Linked DNA regions of Homo sapiens: region 1 is linked to region 2. Evidence: fine-mapped QTL for protein levels in blood plasma. A gene starts in region 2. The other region holds a variant in brackets. All regions are shown on one strand. Distances are between the middles of the regions. Region 1 holds the start of LOC105377668 (a long non-coding RNA gene). Region 2 holds the start of SPINK2 (serine peptidase inhibitor Kazal type 2).

What was found. A credible set is the group of variants that fine-mapping cannot tell apart. PIP is the posterior inclusion probability: the model's chance that the variant is causal. Sun 2018 read protein levels with aptamers (SomaScan).
Region 1: its variant is the best candidate, but not a certain one, in a credible set for the plasma level of the SPINK2 protein (Sun 2018, PIP 0.59).

The regions. Positions count from the first base shown.
Region 1 is chr4:56,787,574-56,796,100 of GRCh38, reverse strand. It overlaps LOC105377668 (a long non-coding RNA gene), which reads right to left and starts at 1,179. Exons shown (of 3, transcript XR_941082.2): 1 at 1,141-1,179. It also overlaps the pseudogene RN7SL492P. The variant G/A (reference allele first, on the strand shown) is at 3,851.
Region 2 is chr4:56,820,785-56,827,746 of GRCh38, reverse strand. It overlaps SPINK2 (serine peptidase inhibitor Kazal type 2), which reads left to right and starts at 6,046. Exons shown (of 4, transcript NM_001271718.2): 1 at 6,046-6,289. The coding sequence starts at 6,085. RefSeq lists a silencer at 5,945-6,204.

The DNA.
Region 1 (8,527 bases), 32 kb after region 2:
TGTAATAGGCAGCAGCGCCTGTACAGAATGGTCGGTAGGGGAAAATGGGGAGGCGGCAGTGGTTGGCCCCTTGAAAAAGGGTCCAGCCTTGGCCTGGGTGTGCTCATGAGAACACCTGGGGTTCCCCAGAAGCGTGGAGCAGGGCCCAAAGCTCCTTTCCCTGCAGGCTTCTTTAAGGAGAAAAAGGCATTCAGGGAGCACTCTGGCAAGGTGTGCCAGAATTAGTCTTGAAGGCACAGCTAGAGCAGACAGGGCACCAAGGCACCATTAGTAGAGGAGGGGCAGCCTCTGATTGATTATACATGAAACAAATGCCCCTTTAACCTCATGGGGATTCTTGGAACTTGGGATGTACCTGTCATCTCTTTTTCTTTCTCTTTTAATAAAGTTGAGTTGAAAAACAAACCAAATTTAGTTATTATTGTATAACAGTAGCTTTCTTTTCTTTTCTTTTCTTTTCTTTTCTTTTTTTGAGATGGAGTCTCACTCTGTCACCCAGGCTGGAGTGCAGTGGCACGATCTCACCTCACTGCAACCTCTGCCTTCCAGGTTCAAGCGATTCTCTTGCCTCAGCCTACCGAGTAGCTGGGACTACAGGCGTCTGCCACCACGCCCGGCTAATTTTTGTATTTTTTTTTTCAGTAGAGATGGGGTTTCACCATGTTGGCCGGGCTGGTCTTTAACTCCTGACCTCAAGTGATCTGCCTGCCTTGGCCTCCCAAAGTGCTGGGATTACAGGCATGAGCCACCTCTCCCAGCCGATCAGTGACTTTTGAACTCTAGCTTGCAGCCGAATCATCTGGAGGGCACACACATTGCTAAGCTCCACTCCCAGTTTCTGATTTCATAGTTATAGAATGGGCTTGAAAATTTGTATTTTTAATGAGTTCCTTGGAGCTGCTGATGCTGCTGGTCAGGGAATACATAAGAACCACTAGCATAGAAAGTTTTCTGGACCATGGAATCCTTAGCTGAAAGATTCTGTAGACCAGATTATAATACAAGATAAGCAGCCCCTACCATAAAATAGTATCCTAACAAGGTACATTCCTGGCTAGGGCCTTGGGGTAGTTTGCTAGGGCTGTTGTAACAAAGTACCACGGACTGGATGGCTTAAACAACAGAAATTAATTTTCTCACAGTTCTGGAGTCTAGACATCCAAGATCAAAGTGTTCCGGGGCTGGTTTCTTCTAAGGCCTGTCTTGGCTCTGAAGATGGCCATCTTCTCCCTGAGTCTGCACATGGTCTTCCCTCTGTACCTCTCTGTGTCCAAATTTCCTCTTCTTCCTCTCTCTCTCTTTTTTTTTTTTTTTTTGAGACAATGTATCATTTTGTTGCCCAGGCTGGAGGGCAGTGGCACAATCATAGCTCACAGCAGCCTTGAACTCCGGAGCTCAAGCTGTCCTCCCATGTAGCTGGAACTATAGGCTCACACTGCCACACCATTTTTTCTAGAGGCCAGGAGCAGTGGCGCATGCCTGTAGTCCCAGCTACTCGGGAGGCTGAGCTAGGAGGATCACTGGAGCCCAGGAGTTCTGGGCTGTACTGTGCTATGTCGATCAGGCGTCCACACTAAGTTTGACATCAATATGGTGACCTCCTGGGAGCAGGAGACCACCAGGTTCACCTGGGGTGAACTAGCCCAGGTCGAAAATGGAGCAGGTCAAAACTCCTGTGCTGATTAGTAGTGGGATTGTGCCTGTGAACAGCCACTGCACTCCAGCCTGGGCAATATAGCAAGACCTCATCTCTAAAACAAAACGTTCTATACTTTTCAAATAAAAAATAAAAAAATATATTTCTAGAGATGGGGCCTTGTTATGTTGCTCAGGCTGGCCATGAACTCCTGGTCTCAGGTGATCCTCTCACCTCAGCCTCCCAAAGTGCTGGGATTACAGGCATGAGACACCACACCTGGTCAACACTTGATATTTTTCCAGTGCTTGGCATTTGACAACCATTATCCCAGGGCACCTCATTCCTGGTATTAAGATGGCAGACTAAGAATTATCAATTTGAAGATGATGTGTTGAACATAGAATCAGAATAAATAGAATTAATAATCTTATGGAAACTGTGCCACTGTTTCTGATCCCTAAATCCAGATGTATCATCTCATGCCTAATTTAACATGTTTTGAAAACATGGCAGAATGTTTTAAATTAGAACTCCGCAAGAATATCCTATCCTGGAATGTGATTGTTGTACAAAAGGGAATCATTTACTTGTTTATTCTTTTTTTTTTTTTTTTTTGAGATGGAGTTTCGCTTTTATTGCCCAAGATGGAGTGCAATGGCACTATCTCAGCTCACCGCAACCTCTGCCTCCTGAGTTCAAGTGATTCTCCTGTCTCAGCCTGCCGAATAGCTGGGATTACAGATGTGCGCTGACACGCCTGACTAATTTTGTATTTTTAGTAGAGATGGGGTTTCTCCATGTTGGTCAGGCTGGTCTCGAACTCCCAACCTCAGGTGATCCACCCGCCTTGGCCTCCCAAAGTGCTGAGATTACAGGCATTAGCCACCATGCCCAGCCACTTGTTTATTCTTTAATAAATATTCTGTTGAACATCTACTTCATGCCAGAGATGGAGCTAGGTGCTGTGGTACAATAAATAAGGACTAGGCAGGATTATGTAGTGATTAAAACACATTCTGGGGGTCGGGCTTGGTGTCTCATGCCTGTAATATCAACATTTTGGGAGGCTGTGTGGGGAGGACCACTGGAGGCCAGGAGTTCGAGACAAGCCTGGGCAACATAGTGAGACCCCATCTCGATTGACTTTTTTTTTTTTTTTGAGATGGAGTCTTGCTCAGCTGCCCAGGCTGGAGTGCAGTGGTGTGATCTCGGCTCACTGCAGTCACTGTTTCCCCGGTTCAAGCAATTCTCCCATCTCAGCCTCCAAGTAGCTGGGATTACAGGCACCGCCATCATGCCTGGCTAATTATTTTTTTTGTATTTTAGTAGAGACAGGGTTTCACCGTGTTGGCCAGACTCATCCTGAACTCCCGACCTCTGGTAATCTGCCCAGCTTAGCCTCCCAAAGTGCTAGGATTACAGGTCTAAGCCACTGCACCCGGCCCTCTATTGAAAATTTTTAAACATTGAAAAGAAGAAGAAGAAAAAAAACACATTCTGGAGCCAAATTGCCTGAATTCAAATTCCAACTCTACCATTTACTAGCTTGACAGTTGGTTAACCACTGTCAAGTTGTGCCTCAGTTTCCTCATCTGTAAAATGGGAATAATAATTGCACCTTTCTGATAAAGGTCATATGAGAATTAAATGAGTCAACATTTGTAAGAAAGCACAGCCAAATGATATTTAACAAAATTGACAAGAACGTACATTGAGGAAAGGACATCCTTTTCAATAAATGGTGCTGGGAAAATTGGATTGCCGTATGCAGAAGAATGAAACTGGACCCCTATTTCTCACCATATACAAAAATGAATTCAAGATGAATTACAAGACTTACATGTACCTGAAACTATAAAAATACTAAAAGAAAACCTAGGTAAAACTCTTCTGGACGTTGGTCTAGGCAAAAATTTTATGACTAAGACCTCAAACATACAGGCCACAAAACTAAAATAGGCAAATGGGACTTAATTAAACTAAAAAGCTTCTGCACAACAAAAGAAATAATCAAATAATCAACAGAGTAAACAGACAACCTGCCAGATGGGAAAAAAATTTTGCAAACTATGCATCCGACAGGGGACTAATAGCCAGAATCTACAAGGAACTCAAACAACTCGACAATGAAAAACATATAACCCCACTGAAAAAGTGGGCAAAGTCCGGGTGCGGTGGCTCAGGCCTGTAATCCCAGCACTTTGGGAGGCC[G/A]AGGTGGGCGGATCACCTGAGGTCGGGAGTTCGAAACCAGTCTGACCAACATGGAGAAACCCTGTCTCTACTAAAAATACAAAATTAGCCAGGTGTGGTGGCATAAGCCTGTAGTCCCAGCTACTCTGGAGGCTGAGGCAGGAGAATTGCTTGAACCTGGTAAGCGGAGGATGCAGTGAGCTGAGTTCGCACCATTGCACTCCAGCCTGGCAACAGAGTGAAACTCCATCACAAACAACAACAAAAAACAAAACAAAAGTGGGCAAAGCAGGAGTTCAAGGTTACAATGAACCATAATCATGCAACTGCATTCTAGCCTGGGTGACAGAGCAAGGCTCTGTCTCTAATAAAAATTAAAAGGTGGACAAAATACACGAATAGACAGTTTTTTTGTTTTTTTTTTTGAGAGAGAGAGTCTCACTCTGTTGCCCAAGCTGGAGTGCAGTGGCACGATCTTGGCTCACTGCAACCTCCACCTACTGGGCTCAAGCAATTCTCCCACCTCAGCCTCCTGAGTAGCTGGGACTACAGGCATACACCACCATACCCAGATAAATTTTTGTATTTTAGTAAAGACGGAGTTTCAACATGTTGCCCAGGGTGGTCTCGAACTCCTGAGCTCAGGCAATCTGCCCACCTCAGCCTCCCAGATATTTTTCAAAAGGAGACATACAAATGACCAACAGACATATGAGAAAATGCTCAACATCACTAATCATCAGAGAAATGCAAATTAAAACCGCAGTGACAGATCATCTTATATTAGTCAGAATGGCCATTATTAAAAAGACAAAAAATAACATGTTGGTGAGGATGTGGAGAAAAGGGAACTCTAATACACTGTTGGTGGTAATGTAAATTAGTGTGTTCTCTACGAAAAATAGTATGGGGATTTCTCAAAAAACTAAAAATAAAGGAAAAGAAATCATTACAGCAAAAAGACATCTACTCTCATGTGTTTATCACACCGCTATTCACAATAGCAAAGATATGGAATCAACCTAACTGTCCATCAATGGATAGTTGGATAAAGAAAATGTGATATATATATGTATACATACACATTGGGATACCATTCAGCCTCAAAAAGAATGAAATCATGTCTTTTGCAACAACATGGTTGGAACTGGAGGCCATTAGGTGAAACAGCTCAGAAACAGACAAATACTGCATGTTCTCACTTACTAGTAGGAGCTAAATAATGTGGACACATGGATTAAAGTGCAGAGTGATAGACGATGGAGACTCAGAAGAGGGAGGGAGTGGGAGGGGCATGGATAATGAGAAATCACTTAATGGGTACAATGTATGTTATTTGGGTGATAGATACTCTAAAAGCCCTGACTTCACCACCAAACAATCTATGCATGAAACAAAATTACATTTGTACCCCATAAATTTATACCAAAAAAAGGCAAATGTAAGCATGATTTCTTAAAGATGCATCAAAAGCTGTTTTCAGTTAGTGAATATAAGAGTTTGGCAGAGAAACATCTTTGGAAGCAAACTTTGAGAACATGTTATTACAACATGTTTCTTAAAAAAACACACACACAAAATTTGTAAAAAGCAAAGAACATTATCTGGCACACTGAATGTGTTTTATAAATGTTGTCATATAAATATACCAGCCCTTGGCTTTAAGAAGCTCACAGTAGGCCGGGCGGGGTGGCTCACACCTGTAATCCCAGCACTTTGGGAGGCCAAGACGGGCAGATCACGAGGTCAGGAGATCGAGCCCATCCTGGACAACATGGTGAAACCCCATCTCTACTAAAACACAAAAAAACTAGCTGGGCATGGTGGCGCATGCCTGTAGTCCCAGCTATTGTGGAGGCTGAGGCAGGGGAATCACTTGAACCCGGGAGGCGGAGATTGCAGTGAGCAGAGATCGCACCACTGTACTCCAGCCTGGTGACACCGTCTAAAAAAAAAAAAAAAAAAGCAGCTCACAGTACTGGGAGGTAAAGAGTGACAGGTAAATGTTTCAATACAATGTAGCAAAAGGTCTAACTAAGGTCTTAGTGAAGCCCTGAACTTCCTCTGCAGCAGGATGGAATATACTAAGACCATCTGGGGCTGAATGACATGTGCTTGCCACATACACCTTCCCTCCAACACCCAAACTGGAGAAAATCCAGCAAGTTTTTATCCTTCCTTTTTATAGCTTCTACTATGAAAACAACCTCCATTATGGTAATGTATAATTATCACAAATGATTTTCAAAAGCCTATCAAATTTAAATGACAGTGAAACTTGTTTAGGAGACCACCTGTTTGAACTAATAGAACTTACGAGAATGGTTTATGTGAAAATAGGATTGGGCAACTGTTCTGCTGTTTGAAACACTGGGTGGGGTACCATGTGAATTAGATGGGGCAATAAACTTATAAGTAGGGTAGCCAACTTGTCCTGGTTTGCATGGGATGTCCTCAGTCTTATTTATTTTATTTATTCATTTATTTTTGAGACAGAGTCTTGCTCTGTCACCCAGGCTGGAGTGCAAAGGCGCAATCTCAGGTCACTGCAACCTCTGCCTCGTTGGTTCAAGTGATTCTCCTGCCTCAGCCTGCAGAGTAGCTGGGACTACAAGTGCGCACCACCACACTCGGCTAATTTTTCAGTTTTAAAACTGAAGTTTCTCATTCCCAGAAATCCCCTAGTCTTAGGCAAAAGTTTAAAATTGTTGCAATCATTTTGATAGGATATGAGAGCTTTAAAAATAAAACTATTTGGCTGCCTGTTCTCGATAGAACTGGTAAATACAGTTGAAATCAATAGATATTTACTAACTTTCTAATGAGTGGATGACAACACATATTCCTGTTCTTTTTTTTTTTGAGACAGAGTTTCGCTGCTGTCCCCCAGGCTGTACTGCAATGGCATGATCTCTGCTCACTGCAACCCCTGGCTCCTGGGTTCAAGCAATTCTCCTGCCTCAGCCTCCTGAGTAGCTGGGACTACAGGCAGGCGCCACCATACCCAGCTAATTTTTGCAGTTTTAGTAGAGACGGGGTTTCACCATGTTGGCCAGGTTGGTCTGAAACTCCTGACCTCAAGTGATCCCCCCACCTCTGCCTCCTAAAGTGCTAGGATTACAGGCCTAAGCCACCACACCCAGCCAATATTCCTGTTTGTTTTGTTTTGTTTTGTTTGTTTGTTTGTTGAGACAGAATCTCACTCTGTCACCAGGCTGGAGTGCAGCGGTGCAATCTCGGCTTACTGCAAACTTCGCCTCCCGAGTTCAAGTGATTCTCCTGCCTCAGCCTCCCAAGTAGCTAGGACAGCAGGTGTGCGCCACCATGCCCAGCTAATTTTTGAATTTTTAGTAGAGACAGTGTTTCACCATGTTGGCCAGCATGGTCTCGATCTCTTGACCCCGTGATCCACCCACTTTGGCCTCCCAAAGTGTTGCGGTTACAGGCGTGAGCCACTGCATCTGGCCCAATATTCTTGTTCTTAATGAACTACGATCTGATTCAGTGAACAAGAAACAAACTACTGTAAAGTTAAATCAAGGTACATTTGCTTATTAGTTCAAGACAATAAGAGAAATGATGTTACAAATTGACTAATGGCCAAATCAATTTTCCACTTAGAATTGCTTTGGGGATGGATTTCAGAGGAAAGGAACAGCTTTTGCTGGGGCTGAGGTATTCATGGAAAACTATTAAAACAGTTATACTTAGGCCAGATGCGGTGGCTCGTATCTGCAACCCCAGCACTTTGGGAGGCACAGGCAGGAAGATCACTTGAGCCCAGAAATTCAAGACCAGGCTGTGCAACACAGTGAGACCCTGTCTCAAAAAAAAAAAAAAAAAAAAAAAAAGTTATACCTTACAAGGGTTCAGAAAAACTGGAGTGATTTTGATAAAGGAGGAGTGTTGCAGGTGGATGGCACAGCACAGGCAAAATGACAGGAGTGGGAAGAAGCAGAAGGCAAATCCGGGGTGCGGGGGGATCAGCTCATTAAAAGGGGGAGGAGGTCGGGCGTGGTAGCTCATACCTATAATCCCAGCACTTGGGGAGGCTGATCGTGGGCAGACTGCTGGAGTCCAGGAGTTTGAGACTAGCCTGAGCAACATGACGAAATCCTTTCTCTACTAAAAATACAAAAAAATTAGCCGGGCTTGATAGAGTGCACCTGTATTCCCAGTTACTCAGAAGGCTCAGTTGGGAGAATCACCGAGCCCAGGAGGCTGAGGCTGCAGTGAGCTGAGATCACGCCATTGCACTCCAGCCTGGGCAACCAGAGTGAGACCCTGTCTAAAAAAAACGCTGTGGGTGGGTGGGTGGAGGGAGAAAAGGAGCCAGAGGAAAGAAATGCAGTGAGGGGAAGTCAGCATTTGATGATGCTTTGCAGTGTTATGCATCCTCTTATGCATGGAAGACGTCTGTTAAACAACCACTCTCTTTCCCTGTGAGAAGAAACACTACCTTCTCCCCTAAGCTGCTGTTCCCCTAAGGTGGAAATACAGGCCCTAAATATAACGCAGTGGGGTGGCTCTTTGTTTTCGTTATCTAGTGTTCATAACAAACCACTGTAAAACTTAATGAGGGCTATTTCACAGCACGCTGGGCTTAGGGCAGTCGTCTTCCTACAGGGCAGCTGGCTTCCCTCAGATAGCCAAAGCGGAAGCTTCCAGGCCTTAAGTCCCAGGCTCCAAACAGCACCC
Region 2 (6,962 bases):
TCATCTTCTGAAATCTAGGCGGAGGTTCCCAAGCCTCAATTCCTGACTTCTGTGCACCTGCAGGCTCAACACCATATGGAAGCTACCAAGACTTGTGGCTTCCACCCTCTAAAGCCACAGCCTGAGCTGTATGTTGGCCCTTTTCACCCATGGCTGGAGCAGCTAGGACACAGGGCACCAAGTCCCTAGGATGCACACAGCACAGGGACCCTGGGCCCCACCCACAAAACCACTTTTTCCTCCTGGGCCTCCAGTCCTGTAATGAGAGGAGCTGCAGTGAAAGTCTCTGACATGTCCTGGAGACATTTTCCCCATGGTCTTGGGGATTAACATTAGGGTCCTTGCTACTCATACAAATTTCAGCAGCCGGCTTGAATTTCCCCCCAGAAAATGGGTTTCTCTTTTTCTTTCTTTCTTTCTTTCTTTTTTTTTTTTTTTTTTTTTTTTGAGACAGAGTCTTGCTCTTCTTGCCCAGGCTAGAGTGCAATGGAGTGATCTCGGTTTACTGCGACCCCTGCTTCCCGGGTTCAAGCGATTCTACTGCCTCAGCCTCCTGAGTAAGCTGGGATTACAGGTATGCACCACCACACCTGGCTAATTTTGTATTTTTAGTAGACAGGGTTTCACCATCTTGGTCCGGCTGGTCTCAAACTCCTGACCTCATGTGATCCACCCAACTTGGCCTCCCAAAGTGTTGGGATTACAGGCGTGAGCCACTGCACCTGGCCCTTTTTTTTTTCTTTTTTTTTTTGAGACGGAGTTTCCCTCTTGTTGCCCAGGCTGGAGTACAATGGTGTGATCTCGGCTCACTGCAACCTCCGCCTCCCAAGTTCAAGCAATTCTCCTGCCTCAGCCTCCCAAGTAGCTGGGATTACAGGCATGCACCATCATGCCTGGATAATTTTGTATTTTTAGTAGAGACGGGGTTTCTCCATGTTGAGGCTGGTCTCGAACTCCTGACCTCAGGTGATCCGCCCGCCTTGGCCTCCTAAAGTGCTGGGATTACAGGCATGAGCCACCACGCCCAGCTTTTCTTTCTTTCTTTTTTTTTTTTTTGAGACAGAGTTTCTTTCACTCTTGCCGCCCAGGCTGGAGTGCAATGGCGCCATCATCTCTGCTCACCACAACCTCTGCCTCCCGGCTTCAAGCGATTCTCCTGCCTCAGCCTCCGGAGTAGATGGGATTACAGGTGCCCACCGCCACGTTTGGCTAATTTTTGTACTTTTAGTAGAGACAGGGTTTCACCATGTTGGCCAGGCTGATCTCAAACTCCTGACCTCAGGTTATCAGCCCACCTCAGCCTCCCGAAGTGCTGGGATTACAAGTGTGAGCCACTGTGCCTGTCCGGGCTTTTCTTTTCTATCACATAATCAGGCTACAAATTTTCCAAACTTTTATGCTCTGCTTCCCTTATAAAACTGAACACCTTTAACAGTACCCAAGTCACCCCTTGAATGCTTTGCTGCTTAGAAATTTCTTCAGCCAGATATCCTAAATCATCTTTCTCAGGTTCAAAGTTCCACAAATCTCTAGGGCAGGGGCAAAATGCCACCAGTCTCTTTGCTAAAACATAACAAGAGTCACCTTTACTCTAGTTCCCAACAAGTTCCTCATCTCCATCTTAGACCACCTCAGCCTGGACCTTATTCTCCTTATCACTATCAGCATTTTGGGCAAAGCCATTCAGCAAGTCTCTAGGAAGTTCCAAACTTTCCCACATTTTCCTGTCTTCTTCTGAGCCCTCCAAACTGTTCCAACTTCTGCCTGTTACCCAGTTCCAAATTCACTTCCACATTTTTGGTATCTTTTCAGCAACGCCCCACTCTCCTGGTACCAATTTACTGTATTAGTCCATTTTCATGCTGCTGATAAAGACATACATGAGACTGGGAAGAAAAAAGGGTTTAATTGGACTTACAGTTCCACATGGCTGGGGAGGCCTCACAATCATGGTGGGAGGTGAAAGGCCCTTCTTACATGGCAGGAGCAAGAGAAAAAATGAGGAGGAAGCAAAAATGGAAACTCCTGATAAACCCATCAGATCTCCTGGACTTATTCACTATCATGAGAATGGCATGGGAAAGACTGGCCCCCATGATTCAATTATCCCCCTGGGTCCCTCCCGCAACACTTGGGAAATCCGGGAGATAGAATTCAAGTTGAGATTTAAGTGGGGACACAGCCAAACCATATCACCTACCTCTACAAAAAATACAAGAATATTAGCTGGGTGTGGTGGCGGATGCTTGTATTCCTAGCTACTTGTGGGGCTGAGGTGGGAGGATCGCTTGAGCCCAGGAGGTTGAGGCTGCAGTGAGCTGAGATTGCGCCACTGTACTCCAGCCTGGGTGACACAGCAAGATCTTCTCTCAAAAAAAAAAAAAAAAAGAATACAGTTATGCCCATTCATTGAGTTATAGTCTATGTCTCCTTTTGCACTGCAATGGCAGAGTTTAGTTGTGACAAGAAGTCAATGGTATTTACTATCTGGCCCTTTACAGAAAATGTTTTTTGACCCTTGTTCTTGGCTCACAAATGCTGAGACAACATGTGAAAAGCACCATGATAGAAAATATTTCTAAGGTATAATTATCAACATTTTTTTTTTTTTTTTGAGACGGAGTCTCGCTCTGTCACCCAGGCTGAAATGCAGTGGTGTGATCATGGCTCACTGCAGCCTCCACCTCCCAGGCTCAGGTGATCCTCCCACCTCAGCCTCCTAAGTAGCTGGGACTACAGGTGCGCGCCACCACACCAGGCTAATTTTTGTATTTTTTTAGAGACAGGGTTTTGTCATGTTGCCCAGGTTGGTCTCCAACTCCTGGGCTCAAACAATCTGCCCGCCTCTGCCTCCCAAAGTGCTGGGATTACAGGCATGAGCCACCCTGCCAGTCAGTGTCAACTCTTTGAAACAAAATAACCTAAAGGCAGCTGTATCCACACACATAAATTTATAAAAAATCTATCTTGAGGGGTAAATGGCTTTTCTTTTGAAGCTGAAATTCCTACTCACACACCTCTGAGCATTGCCCCTGAGTCTGGGTCAGATTTGTGTTCCCAGAGCATCAAAGGTGTTTGTAAGCAAGTGCACATGTCATTTGGTAACAGACATCCAGCACAGTTGAGAAAAGCTTTATATATAAATTATATTTTATCAATCCTTGATAAGAATCTTCAGCAAAATGACCCATGACCATTTCATGACTGTTATTCAAAGAACTGAATGTGATGTGACTTAGAGAAGTACTAACACTCATTTCAAATTTACCCCTTGGCCTCAGACAGGATTCCAGCCAGAACTCAGCCATGTGTGGTGCCAAGTGGAGTTAAAAACTGCACAGTGTCTTCTTGTTCCAGCCTTTGAGGTTGCTAAGGTCAAGGGTGGGCATGGGAACATGCCAGTCATAAGATGATTCTCCATCAGCTCTACAACCCCCTTCTACACTCTGCTATGTGGTGCCAGGTCTCAGCAGACCTCATTTCTGCTTTTTCAGCTGGCTTCCAGAAGGTTATGCCCATAGGGTCTGTCAGGGGGACACCGGAAGGCAGGAGGAGGGAGAAGGGACTGGCTCCTGCCTGCTGGCTGTTTCTTTCAGCAGTGCCACAGCAATGACTCTTCATCACTCTGATAGAATCAGCTGGCTCCAGTCTCCAGCATTTTTTTTTTTTTTTTTGAGACAGAGTTTCACTCTGTTGCCCAGGCTGGAGTGCAGTGGTGTGCTTCGCTCACCACAACCTCCACCTCCTAGGTTCAAGAGATTCTCATGAACCTGGGATTACAGGAGTATGGCACCATGTCCAGCTAAGTTTTATATTTTTTAGTAGAGACAAGGTTTCACCATGTTGGCCAGGCTGGTCTCGAACTCCCGACCTCAAGTGACCCACCCACCTCAACCTCCCAAAGTGCTGGGATTACAGGTGTGAGCCACTGCACCTGGCTCCAGTCTTCAGCTTTTCCACACACTCTTAGAGCCACCTGCATATCCAAGCAACACCCCCTTCCCATGGGTCTGAGTCCCAGCTTTCCAGGACCTCTCCTCCAAATTTCTAGTTCTGAGAATCCCAACCTAATCCGTTTGTTCCCCTAGATCGAGGCATGATGCCTACTTCCTAAAGGCTTTATCTCTGTGTTACCTCGTTTTCCCTTTCTGCTTTTTTCAGTTATCCCTACTGGATTAGCCAATTCCTTATACTAAATTATCTCTGGTGAAATACCTAGTAAACCTTGTGTTTTCCAGACTGGACCCTTACTGATAAGGCAACATGTCACAGAATCATTTGACACACAGGCATAAGAAGCAGAAAAAAAAAAAAGTGGATCTGCTAATGCACTTTTTTTTTTTTTTGACAGAGTCTTACTCTGTCGCCCAGGCTGGAGTGCAGTGGCACCATCTCGGCTCACTGCAACCTCTGCCTCTTGGGTTTAAGCAATTCTCATGCCTCAGCCTCCCAGGTAGCTGGGACTACAGGTGCGCACCACCATGCACAGCTAATTTTTGTATTTTTAGTAGAGATGGGGTCTTGCCATGTTGGCCAGGCTGGTCTCAAACTCCTGGCCTCAAGTGATCTACTTGCCTCAGCCTCGCAAAGTGCTGGGATTACGGGCATGAACCACCGTGCCTGGCCAAATTTTTTTGACATGGTCTCATTTTGCCACTGAGGCTGGAGCGCAGTAGCTCAATCTCAGCTCAATGGCCACACCTGGCTAATTTTTGTACTTTTTTTAGAGACGGGGTTTTGCCCTGTTGCCCAGGCTCCTCTCAAACTCTTGAGCTCAAGTGATCCACCAGGCTCAGCCTCCCAAAGTGCTGGGATTAGAGGCGTGAGCCACCACGCCTGGCCTTAATGCACTAACTTGCTCAGCCTCTTTGGCAAAAATTATTTCTCACAGAAGTAATGAGTAGAACAGTAGTTACTAGAGGCTGGGAAGGATAGGGGGATAGGGAGAGGTTGGTTAAAGTATACAAAATTACAGCTAGGTAGAAAGGATAAGTGCTAGTGTTTCATAGCATTGTAGGGTGCCGACAATTAACAATAATATATTATAAAGGTCGAGCACGGTGGCTCAAGCCTGTAATCCCAGCACTTTGGGAGGCCAAGGTGGGCGGATTGCTTGAGCCCAGGAGTTTGAGAGTAGCCTGGGCAACATGGTGAGAACCCCTCTCTACAAAAAATGCAAAAATTAGCTTGGCATGGTGGCATATATCTGTGGTCCCAGCTACTTGGGAGGGAGGCTGAGGTGGGAGGATCACTGGAACCTGGGAGGTGGAGGTTGCAGTGAGCTGAGATCGTGCCACTGCACTCCAGCCTGGGTAAAAGAGCGAGACCCTGTCTGAAATTTAAATAATAATAATAATTTATTATGTATTTTCAAGTAGCTAGATGAGAGGATTTTGAATGTTCTCAACACAAAGTAATGATAAATGTTTGAGGTGATGAATATGCTAATTATCCTATTTTGATCACTACACATTGTATGTATCCAAATATCACTATGTACCCCCATAAATATGTACAATCATTATGTGTCAACTCAAATAGTTAAAAAATATATTAAAAGAGGGAAAGGCAGAACGCTTCCTGAGAGCAAGGACCTCCTTTGTCGAGGTCAGGGCTGTGTCTTCAGCAACGAAACACTATCTGGGACTTAGTACATGCTTAAGAAATAGGTGTTGATTGACAGAGCTCCCAAGAGCTCCACAAGGGTCCCCCTAGGACTGTCACAGGTTCTTGTATGTCGGAGGGAGAGGTCTTCCCCTTCGTCTCCTTGGGGGGAGGGGAAGGTGTTGGGGAACAACTGCCCCTTCCTCTATCTCCCTCGCCCCTCCTTCCCCATGGCCCCCTCCCCCGTCCTTCTACCTTTCTCCTTCCCAGCCCTTTCCGGTTCTCCCCCGACCCTTCACGGCTCCTCTTCCCGCCGCTCCTCTTCCCGCCGCCCCTCTTCCCTCGCCACCTACCGCTGCTTTTCCTCCCATTCTCGCCCCGCCCCTTCCCCCGCCCTCCCCGCGCCCCGTCGCACGAGCGCTCCCTGCGAGTGGCGCAGGTAACAGACCGCAGGGGCAAGACAGCCGGCGCGGGAGGAGGATGGCGCTGTCGGTGCTGCGCTTGGCGCTGCTGCTCCTGGCAGTTACCTTCGCAGGTAGCGCTCGGAGCGGTCCTGGCGAGCGGGGACCTCCGGAGAAAAGCGGGTTTGGGAGTCAGACCGGCGGCGGACCCTGCCCTGCTCCGGGCGGCCTCGGCGACGGTACCCGCGCGCCCGTTACTGGCGGTTCCCCAGAGGACCTGCCAGGTGGAGGAACGCGAACTGGGGGTTGTGGGGGTGGCTTTGTGGAGTCAGCCACCCTCTTTAGTTCTTGCTTGGGCTTCGCTCCCAGCTCTAAGGACACCTGCCATCTAGAGCGCTTTCTCTGTTAAAGTAGATTTTCAGGTGCCCAAGATGAGGAGTTGAGTTTTTATGTATGGTCCCAAGGGAGGAGATGTGCAGGAATGAGGAATTGTGGATGCTTACGAGAAAGGGGCTTTAGTCCAACCACACTGGACACCTCTCTTAAAATGGAGTTAAAATGCTCACATCTTATATTAAATTTTGTATTTGTTACCCCGAGTTGTAAAGGAAAATAACATCATGAACTATTAATTAAGGGTTACTTCCTTGGCCAGGTGTAGTGGCTTGGGCCGGTAGTCCCAGTTACTCCGGAGGTTGAGGCGGGAGGCTCGCTTGAGACCAGGAATTGAAGCTGCAGTGCGCTAGCGCGACTTTTATTCCATAGCTTCAAAGTCCTTTCTCAACCAACCCTAATGGGAACAGAACCAAATGTTATTTCTATGTGCTTTTGGGGAGAGGTGCCATAAAAAACTGAATATCCTTTCTGGGGGAAGTGGGATGGGGACAGTTTAAAGAAGGTAGGCATTAGAGGGGAAAATAGAAGATGTGGCCTGGATAAATCCCAAACTGGATTTTA